3 linked regions of the Homo sapiens genome follow. The protein of the gene in region 1 purifies or fractionates together with the protein of each later gene. This does not show direct contact. Each region holds a gene or a part of one and is shown on either strand. Other genes may lie near its edges.

Region 1 (4,007 bases):
CTCCAGCTTCCCCACCTGAGATGGTTGGACAAAGGGTTCCTTCAGCCCCAGGACAAGAGAGTCCTATCCCAGACCCTAAGCTCATGCCACACATGAAGAATGAACCCACTACTCCCTCATGGCTGGCTGACATCCCACCCTGGGTGCCCAAGGACAGACCCCTCCCCCCTGCACCCCTCTCCCCAGCTCCTGGTCCCCCCACACCTGCCCCGGAATCCCATACTCCTGCACCCTTCTCTTGGGGCACAGCCGAGTATGACAGTGTGGTGGCTGCAGTGCAGGAGGGGGCAGCTGAGTTGGAAGGTGGGCCATACTCCCCCCTGGGGAAGGACTACCGCAAGGCTGAAGGGGAAAGGGAAGAAGAAGGTAGGGCTGAGGCTCCTGACAAAAGCTCACACAGCTCAAAGGTACCAGAGGCCAGCAAAAGCCATGCCACCACGGAGCCTGAGCAGACTGAGCCGGAGCAGAGAGAGCCCACACCCTATCCTGATGAGAGAAGCTTTCAGTATGCAGACATCTATGAGCAGATGATGCTTACTGGGCTTGGCCCTGCATGCCCCACTAGAGAGCCTCCACTTGGAGCAGCTGGGGATTGGCCCCCATGCCTCTCAACCAAGGAGGCAGCTGCCGGCCGAAACACATCTGCAGAGAAGGAGCTTTCATCTCCTATCTCACCCAAGAGCCTCCAGTCTGACACTCCAACCTTCAGCTATGCAGCCCTGGCAGGACCCACTGTACCCCCAAGGCCAGAGCCAGGGCCAAGTATGGAGCCCAGCCTCACCCCACCTGCAGTTCCCCCCCGTGCTCCTATCCTGAGCAAAGGCCCAAGCCCCCCTCTTAATGGTAACATCCTGAGCTGCAGCCCAGATAGGAGGTCCCCATCCCCCAAGGAATCAGGCCGGAGTCACTGGGATGACAGCACTAGTGACTCAGAACTGGAGAAGGGGGCTCGGGAACAGCCAGAAAAAGAGGCCCAATCCCCAAGTCCTCCTCACCCCATTCCTATGGGGTCCCCCACATTATGGCCAGAAACTGAGGCACATGTTAGCCCTCCCTTGGACTCACACCTGGGGCCTGCCCGACCCAGTCTGGACTTCCCTGCTTCAGCCTTTGGCTTCTCCTCATTGCAGCCAGCTCCCCCACAGCTGCCCTCTCCAGCTGAACCCCGCTCGGCACCCTGTGGCTCCCTTGCCTTCTCTGGGGATCGAGCTCTGGCTCTGGCTCCAGGACCCCCCACCAGAACCCGGCATGATGAATACCTGGAAGTGACCAAGGCCCCCAGCCTGGATTCCTCACTGCCCCAGCTCCCATCACCCAGTTCTCCTGGGGCCCCTCTCCTCTCCAATCTGCCACGACCTGCCTCACCAGCCCTGTCTGAGGGCTCCTCCTCTGAGGCTACCACGCCTGTGATTTCAAGTGTGGCGGAGCGCTTCTCTCCAAGCCTTGAGGCTGCAGAACAGGAGTCTGGAGAGCTGGACCCAGGAATGGAACCAGCTGCCCACAGCCTCTGGGACCTCACTCCTCTGAGCCCAGCACCCCCAGCTTCACTGGACTTGGCCCTAGCTCCAGCTCCAAGCCTGCCTGGAGACATGGGTGATGGCATCCTGCCGTGCCACCTGGAGTGCTCAGAGGCAGCCACGGAGAAGCCAAGCCCCTTCCAGGTTCCCTCTGAGGATTGTGCAGCCAATGGCCCAACTGAAACCAGCCCTAACCCCCCAGGCCCTGCCCCAGCCAAGGCTGAAAATGAAGAGGCTGCGGCTTGCCCTGCCTGGGAACGTGGGGCCTGGCCTGAAGGAGCTGAGAGGAGCTCCCGGCCTGACACATTGCTCTCCCCTGAGCAGCCAGTGTGTCCTGCAGGGGGCTCCGGGGGCCCACCCAGCAGTGCCTCTCCTGAGGTCGAAGCTGGGCCCCAGGGATGTGCCACTGAGCCTCGGCCCCATCGTGGGGAGCTCTCCCCATCCTTCCTGAACCCACCTCTGCCCCCATCCATAGATGATAGGGACCTCTCAACTGAGGAAGTTCGGCTAGTAGGAAGAGGGGGGCGGCGCCGGGTAGGGGGGCCAGGGACCACTGGGGGCCCATGCCCTGTGACTGATGAGACACCCCCTACATCAGCCAGTGACTCAGGCTCCTCACAGTCAGATTCTGATGTCCCGCCAGAAACTGAGGAGTGTCCGTCCATCACAGCTGAGGCAGCCCTCGACTCAGATGAAGATGGAGACTTCCTACCTGTGGACAAAGCTGGGGGTGTCAGTGGTACTCACCACCCCAGGCCTGGCCATGACCCACCTCCTCTCCCACAGCCAGACCCCCGCCCATCCCCTCCCCGCCCTGATGTGTGCATGGCTGACCCCGAGGGGCTCAGCTCAGAGTCTGGGAGAGTAGAGAGGCTACGGGAGAAGGAAAAGGTTCAGGGGCGAGTAGGGCGCAGGGCCCCAGGCAAGGCCAAGCCAGCGTCCCCTGCACGGCGTCTGGATCTTCGGGGAAAACGCTCACCCACCCCTGGTAAAGGGCCTGCAGATCGAGCATCCCGGGCCCCACCTCGACCACGCAGCACCACAAGCCAGGTCACCCCAGCAGAGGAAAAGGATGGACACAGCCCCATGTCCAAAGGCCTAGTCAATGGACTCAAGGCAGGACCAAGTAAGTATATCATGAAACTTGGCAGAGAGTGTGGGTTAGGGCTGGGTGTGGGCTGGTCAGACTTCAGGAGTGGGACAGAGGGGAAGGTTGCCAAAAGGGTTCTACTTTTCCTCTACAATGAATCCTGGCTTGTCTCTACAGTGGCCTTGAGTTCCAAGGGCAGCTCTGGTGCCCCTGTATATGTGGATCTCGCCTACATCCCGAATCATTGCAGTGGCAAGACTGCTGACCTTGACTTCTTCCGTCGAGTGCGTGCATCCTACTATGTGGTCAGTGGGAATGACCCTGCCAATGGCGAGCCAAGCCGGGCTGTGCTGGATGCCCTGCTGGAGGGCAAGGCCCAGTGGGGGGAGAATCTTCAGGTGAGTAGCAAAGGACACCAAGGAAGTAGTCTGGTCAACGCTCACTCAGAGGCAGTAGTGGAACACAGTCCCTATTTATTAAAGGATGGGCCTTTTCTAAGGGCAGCAGAGCTGCTTCTGAGACCATGAGGTGCCCCTTCCCCCTCACCTACCTTCCCTTTATGTTCTCACATCAGACATATCTTATCTCCCTTCTAGGTGACTCTGATCCCTACTCATGACACGGAGGTGACTCGTGAGTGGTACCAACAAACTCATGAGCAGCAGCAACAACTGAATGTCCTGGTCCTGGCTAGCAGCAGCACCGTGGTGATGCAGGATGAGTCCTTCCCTGCCTGCAAGATTGAGTTCTGAAAGAGCCGCCCTCCCTTCCCCAAGGATCCACTCCCCCAGCTCCTTTAGAGAATGGCTACTGCTGAGTCCTTTGGGGTTGAGGGAGATGGGAGCTAGGGGGAGGGGAGGGAGATGTCTTGTTGTGGGGACTTGGGCTGGGCTAAATGGGAGGGGTTGTCCCTCCCCATCATCCATTCCTGTGAGGTGTCTCAAACCAAAGTTAACAGGGAGAGGATGGGGGAGGGGACAAATTAGAATAGGATAGCATCTGATGCCTGAGAACCCTCTCCTAGCACTGTCAAATGCTGGTATTGAATGGGGACTGAGGATGGGTCTCAGAGAGCAACCTCCTCCCTCGTAGAGGGAGATTATATCCCCAACTCCAGGGACCTCTTTATCTCAATCTATTTATTTGGCATCCTGGGAGGGATTTCCAATAGTAATTTATGTGACCTGGGGCAGGATACCGTCAGTGAGGTGCCCAGAGCTGCACCCTTTCCTCCATTTCCCATCCCCCATCTCCTCAACCACCAGGGTCTGAGTTCTAGCAGGGTCCTGGGGGTATCCCACTGCTATACTGTTCTACTGCTTCCCTCAGTATCTGAATGTCTCAATTTAAAACTTGAAGCTCTTTAGACCAATAGACTGGTGAGAGGAGAAAGGAGCTTA
Region 2 (3,500 bases), on another chromosome or scaffold:
ATGGCGTGAACCTGGGAGGCAGAGCTTGCAGTGAGCTGAGATCGCACCACTGCACTTCAGCCTGGGTGACAGAGCAAGACTCTGTCTCAAAATAAAAAAAATAAAAAAATAAAAAAATAAAAAATTAGCTGGGCGTGGTGGCGTGCGCCTGTAATACCAGCTACCCGGGAGGCTGAGGCAGGAGAATTGCTGGAACCTGGGAGGCAGAGGATGCAGTGAGCTGAGATCGTGCCACTGCACTCCAGCCTGGCTGACAGAGCGAGACTCTCAAAAAAAAAAAAAAAAAAAAAAAAAAGTACATTTCAAAAAATAGAAAGAACATTACAGCTTCTGCAGGTCAGTGTAGTCATCAAATATTGCAACACAATGATACCACATTCCTACGTCCTTTCACTCGGCCTCTGATGCTGAAAGAAGATTTGCATCTGGAAAGTGGCTTTTCATCATTAGCTTGCTTCATTCATACACTATTGTTTGTCTTTTGAGTTGAGTAAAAGATACAAGAAACATTTTATTTCTCACCTTGTCTATACTGAGCACAAACATTGGAAAGGTCCACTTGATTGCTAATTTTTTGATATTCCTTTAATGATTCCCTTAACATTCTTTCTTTTTCAGTCTTATTTTGAACTTGTCGGGAACGCTGGAGAAGCTCATTTGCCTAGAAGAGGAGATAACAAGAACTTAAAAATATATAAAATCAAGCAGACAGATGATGCTGTCAACTAAGTTTTAGTCTATGTCTAAATTTATATATGGTTATTACCATTAAAATGAAAACAACTCTACAAACTTACTTCTTAATTTTAGGCAGAAAAGTTTTTGACCAAAGATTCCTAGCTATTCTTAATTCCTCTCCCAAATATGTTAAGCAAGAGAACTTTTGTCTGGTAATTCTCTTGCCTAGTCAATACATTATTGGGCAGCAGGCAGTCCATGTGACACTGATTTATTTATTTTTTCCACCTGTAGGAAAGGATCAATAAAAATGCCCCCATTAACTCTAATTCACTAAAAGATTTACTTGAAGTTTTAGTACTTTTCCTTAAGCTAAGGAGATAAATTATCCCCTAAATTTCCTTAATTTCTAAATTTAGTGATTTTTCTTAATTTCTCACCTTTGGTTTTTTAATATGGCCTAGAAACACTATCAAAGATTCTTTATGGGCCAGGCGCAGAGGCTCATGTCTATAATCCCAACACTTTGCAAGGCTGAGGCAGGCGGAGGTCAGGAGTTCAAAACCAGCCTAGACAACATGGTGAAATCCTGTCTCTACCAAAAATATAAAAAATTAGCCAGGTGTGATGGTGCACACCTGTAATCCCAGCTATTTGGGAGGCCGAGGCAGGAGAATCACTTGAACCTGGGAGGTGGAGGTTGCAGTGAGCTGAGATCGTACTCAGTCTTAAAAAAAAAGAGAGAATATTCTTTATGAAAAACTTAAAGGAGGGCTGGGCATGGTGGCTCACACTTATAATCCCAGCACTATGGGAGGCTGAGGCAGGAGGATCACTTGAAGCCAAGAGTTCAAGACCAGCCTGTGCAACAAATCAGAACTTGTCTCTATAAAAAACAAAAAAATTGGCTGGGTGTAGTGGTGCACACCCGTAGCCCCTAGCTACATGAGAGGCCTGCTTGAGTCTAGGACTTAGAAGCTGCTGTGAGCTATGATCACAGCACTGCACTACAGCCTAAGCAACAGAGTGAAACCCTGTGTCAAATAAATAAATAAAAATATTTTTAAAAAGAAAAGCTAAGCTTAAAAGAGTATACACTGGTTTTAAGAAGCCACATATTCCAACCCCTTTCTTAGATGAGGATTCTGAGGCTAGGAGAGGTTAAGAGATCTAACTGACTGAGGTCCTATATTAAGTGAAACAAGATGGTTCATCATACATGATACCTCTTATAACAAACAATGAAATAGGTAATAAAGTATCATACCTTAGAACAAATTGCATCATCAGTGCTATATAGAAGTGGGCAGATATCCTGTAAATGTAAACTAATGCCATCAACAGCGGCATTATCTCTGATGTAGCAGTTGATAAGAGAAGCAATTAATGCCCCTGTGAGTTCTTTGTCCCTGATTACAAGATCTTTAAAGGTGGTGATCTTCAGCTGCTCTTGAAGTTCCTAGGAGCATAAAACTTTTCTATCACAATTATAGAAATACCATATTTCTAAACATAATGAAATTATTTTAATAAATTAAAATAACCTAAATATTAATAGACTCTATAATTGAAAAGCGAAAATATACTAATTAGTAGAAACAAATTTTTGCGAACTTACATAAAATCATAGAGAGTTGGAAAAGAACCTACAGTAGATCTAGTCCAAAACTCTCACTTTCCAAATGAGAAAAGTAAAGCTTAAGTAGAGCCAAAACTAGAGTCAGATCTCCTGGCTTTGGTTATAAAATGGAAAAAACAATCACTTGGCTATATTTGAAAATCTTGGGCTTACATATTACTCCTTCCTAAACACTGTTAGAATTCCATTATTCTAGGCCTTATAATAATATTGGAGTTTAATCTGTATTGTGAACAAATCTGCTTGTCCAAATGAAGCTCTAAAGTATTGATTTATACTATAGTAAAAGATTCTGTTAGTGATGTGACTGCTATCTCTTTTTTCTAAATTCAAGGAAATACCCAAACTGTGTTAAAATTCTTGAACAAATCTTTAATTTGCATTCATTGAGCATGCCATTGGTGATGTAAGGAAGAGAGCTTTGAAGATGGATCACAAAAACATACCCAGGATAAAAACCTACCTACAATATATTTATCACTCTATAAAACTCAAAATTATTATTCTACTTGGTATGAAAAAGATAAGTTTCATAATTAAATATATTAGCTTGAATTTTTAAAAATAAAAAACAGTATGTATTTAAAAGAAACAAAACCACCAACAAAAGCCACACTATTCATTGGACACTAGTGGAAAGAATGAGGAGACTGCCTTCCAACGTTGAAAAATGGTATACGAGAGTCAAAAAGTAAGTGTTTCAGAGTAATGAAATATCCATACAGGACAAGGAAAAAGAATTTTTTTTTTTTTTTTTACAGAATTGCAGCTAGTAACTGGGGAAGGAATCACAGATTTAAAATATTATCCTTTTGGCCGGGCATGGTGGCTCATGCCTGTAATCCCAGCACTTTGGGAGGCCAAGGCAGGTAGATCACCTGACGTCAGGAGTTCAACACCAGCCTGGCCAACATGGCGAAACCCGGTCTCTTACTAAAACTACAAAAATCAGCCAGGCGTTGTGGCACATGCCTGTAGTCCCAGCTACTCGGGAAGCTGAGGCAGGAGAACTGCTTGTACCCGGGAGGTGGAGGTTACAGTGATCTCAGATTGCTCCACAGCACTCCAGCCTGGGTGACAGAATGAGACACTGTCTCAAAAAAAATAAAAAACAAACAAACAAATAAATAAATATTACCCTTTTGTAATCCTAAATGAAATAATAAATTCCAGCAATGATTAT
Region 3 (3,500 bases), on another chromosome or scaffold:
AAATGGAGACAATAAGACTTGCCCCAACTATTTCATAAGTCAAATAAAATAATGTATATAAATAGTAGCTATAAGTACATGCTATGTATAAAAGCCCTTTGAAAATTGGGAAGTGTCTTATATAAGCCTTGGTGTTGATTTTCATCAGCTCCTCATGGACTGGGACTGTGCTTGAGTCCCCAGTCCCTAGAGCAGTGGCCTCCAAAGTAAGGTACATCAGATCATCCATGTGCCTGGGGAAAATATGAGCTCTTCTACTTACGTTTACTTTTTCTACCTGCTTTGCATTTCTACTCCATCAATTTCTATTTTATCTATCTTTATTATGATATTAATGTAGTAATATATGTGTATTACTTACAAACAAATATTCACACAGTGGGGTGTGGGTTTTAATTAAATGTTGGTTATTGACATGGGTGTCGATCCAAGTGCTTCGGAGATCAGTGCTCTAAACAGTGCCTGGCACATAGTAGGGTCTCAATAAACATGACCTTTGGGCAACTGCAACTCACCAGGTGGCCAGCAGAGGGCAGTGCTTCCCAGGGCAGGGCACACAGGTGACCATCTCTCCCCACTTCCTGAAGGGAGAAGGCTTTTCTTTTCTCATCCCCACTTCTTGAACGCCCCTAATTCTTGTCTGCCCTGGGTTCCAGCTGTCAAGCCCGTGCCCTCCGCAGAGAACAGTGGTTTTGAATGTTCCAGGTTCTCTGGAGGCCCATCTTAATACTCCTGAGCCCGCCATGTTCTCAGCACTGACTGGCAGGCCCTGTGCTAAGTGCTTTACACACATTAGCTCACTTAGCCATTGCAACCCTGTGGGTAGATACAATTACAGTCCTCATCTGACAGGTGAGGAAATGCAGGCTCAGAGAGGTTAAGCAACTTGCCCAGCATCACACAGCTAGTAAATGGTGAGCCTAAGATGCCTTCACGGGTCTGGGAGTCCACCGTCTATGCTCTTAACCATCAAGCTGACCTGTTTTACCTGCTGTGGTATCTCCAGCTCCTAACATATTGCTGGCTCATAGCTGATCCTCAAAAATGTTTGCTGAGTGACTAAACAAATGAAGACTACTTAAGTTCCAAGACCAGCTACTCTCACTGTGTGAGCTTGAGGAATAGCTCATGCCCTTTGAGCTTCAGTGTTCTTGTCTGAAAATAGGATAAAAGTACCTGTATCTCATGAGATTGTTATTAATTCATATTAAATGACTAAACACAAATGATGATAATAATAGCAGCTAATACTTATGTATCACTATGTGCCGGGCACCATTCTAAATGCTTTCATAGATGAACTCAATTGATCCTCACAATTCCTCCAGGAGGCAAGTACTCCTACTATTCCCATTTTATGGATGATAAAACTGAGCACAGAGGGATGAAGTACCCTGCCAGAGGACACACAGATGGTGAGCTAAAGGGCTGGTGCCGAATGCAAGCAGCAGGCTCCAGAGCTCATGCTCTTACACACTGCATGAAATGCACTTCGAACAGACGCACTCCACCTCCCATTAATGCTAGCCATCATTCACACTGAGGAAGACCAGAAAGATGACAATGATGACAATGATCTTGACTGGGGGACCTGGGCGCAGATCCGAGGGGCCACCCTCCCTTGGGGTCTATCCAGGGGCACAACTCACCACCTGCAGAATTGACCTTCACCAGCACCTGCCCCTTGGTCCAGCCATCCTCCTGGGCCAACGCTGCCATCACCTCTCTCACGGAGGCTGTCACAGGCAGCTGCAGGGTCAACACTGAGTGGTCTGGCCGGCAGATGTCATAGGGGACTGAAGAGGAGACCAGACTGAGCTGTGGGAAGGGCTGCCTGATCTCCACCCCAGGAGGGAGAGGGCGGCTATTGCAGTAATGGTGGGAGGGATCCCCAAGAGGCTGAGCTGCAGGTGGGGAGGCCCTGAGCAAAAAAGAGGCAGGTAGGAGGCAGATCTAGCCAGCAGCCTGGAACACAGACCCTGAGGAGTACAGCGTGCCACCTTGGCCCAGGCACACCGAGGTCAAGAGTGACGACAGCAGGACAAGAGAGGCAGAGACAGCAGGGTGCAGATGTCGGGCTGTGCCCAGCCGGCACAGACCACCAACCTTTATCCCCAACTTGGATGGCACAGCTGCTGCCAGGAAGGGGCTCGTCCTGGTTGGGGAGCCAAACAGGCAAGTTCCGGGCCTGGGAGGAAGAGGAACGAGAAAATAAGGCTGGGAGGACATGAGAGGAGACCGTGGAGGGAGGGATTGTGAGGTCCCTGTGTCACCAGGAGCACGGGCGCCACACAGCATTCACACCACCAGAGGGCTCTGCTTGCCACATTCACCTGAGCTCAGGTAAGGCACCTGGGACCAAGGATCCAGGAGAAGACACAACATGTCTAAGGGCGGGGCAAATCCATGCCCCTCCGTGTGTGTGTGCTTCTGCATCTGCCAGATAGGTCCAGAGCAGTTCTAATATGAAAATCCTTCAGCTGCTGACTTTGGTTTTCTCTTCCTTTTCCTCCAGCTACCATTTGCTACAAGCCAGGCATTATTCTGAGGATCTAAATATTCACAATGCGCCTTTGACAAAAGTATTATTTTTATTTCCATTTTATGGATGAAATAAATGAGGCTCAGAGAGGTTAAGTAACATGCCCAAAGCCACACAGCTGCTAACTGGCAGAGTTGGAATCCCTCCTGCTCCTTTCCCCCTCTGTGCTCCGATACTGTGTCAGTGGCCCTGTCCCAGCCCACAGCAGGGATGCAGTTCATGGAAACCACTGTCAGGCCTCTGCTGGCAGGGCAGCGCCTGCCAGGCAAGTCTCCTGACTCAGGTTCCCCTTCCCACCCTGCTTTTTTCCGACTCTGGTACTGACTCTGTCCCTCCTCCCAGCTCTGCGTATAGCAGATCCTCCAGGTTCGGACCTCAATCCATTGCTCTTCCCTACATTTCCAAATCTCAGGGACCCCTGCAGAGTTCCTTACTGCCTCATGTGTCGCCTGCACATGGGTGATTCCCAAAACTACCAGCAGTGCTGAACTCTCTTCCAAACCCTGGTCTCAAAAACCCCCTGCATCCTTCCACATGAATGATCCATTACCTCACACTCCATATACCCATCGGATCCTTGCATCCTGCCTCCCAGACCACTCTGTTCCCCAGCCATTCTCCCCAGCTCCAGGCTCCTCCACACTTCCGTAGCTTGTCATCTTGCTTTGAAGATTCTTCTTTGAAGTGGGTCTTCTGTGCCCCCTCCTCCCCTGCCCAGGCTAACTCCAGTTCCACCTGCCCACGAGGCCTCACTCCTTATCTACTCCAATGGCCCAACTATGCTCCTCCTCCTCCCTCCCAGGTGCCTCCAGCCCTCCTCCTCCAATCTGCCTGACCAGAGCCCTGTGAAGCTCCCGCACTCGACTTCAGTGGCGTCCATTGTCTGCTGGAGAAAGCCCAGGCTCTTTAGCTGACCTATTCAAAACACAAATCAGACTTTGCCAACCTTGGCTCAAAC

The links.
Region 2: the proteins of MAP1A (region 1) and NUP155 purify together in Homo sapiens (affinity purification with mass spectrometry, with the first as the bait; one large-scale study listed by BioGRID). This does not show direct contact.
Region 3: the proteins of MAP1A (region 1) and RAPGEF3 purify together in Homo sapiens (affinity purification with western blotting, with the first as the bait; one study listed by BioGRID). This does not show direct contact.

Annotation. Positions count from the first base shown.
Region 1 is NC_000015.10:43,526,866-43,530,872, forward strand, and holds part of MAP1A (microtubule-associated protein 1A), read left to right. Parts: coding exon 1-2,643; intron 2,644-2,784; coding exon 2,785-3,005; intron 3,006-3,203; coding exon 3,204-3,359; 3' UTR 3,360-4,007. UniProt on the Homo sapiens protein: Structural protein involved in the filamentous cross-bridging between microtubules and other skeletal elements.
Region 2 is NC_000005.10:37,308,607-37,312,106, forward strand, and holds part of NUP155 (nuclear pore complex protein Nup155), read right to left. Parts: intron 2,138-3,500; coding exon 1,946-2,137; intron 967-1,945; coding exon of another isoform or gene 916-966; exon of another isoform or gene 817-915; intron 662-816; coding exon 523-661; intron 1-522.
Region 3 is NC_000012.12:47,741,881-47,745,380, forward strand, and holds part of RAPGEF3 (rap guanine nucleotide exchange factor 3), read right to left. Parts: intron 2,189-3,500; coding exon 2,107-2,188; intron 1,797-2,106; coding exon 1,650-1,796; intron 1-1,649. UniProt on the Homo sapiens protein: Guanine nucleotide exchange factor (GEF) for RAP1A and RAP2A small GTPases that is activated by binding cAMP.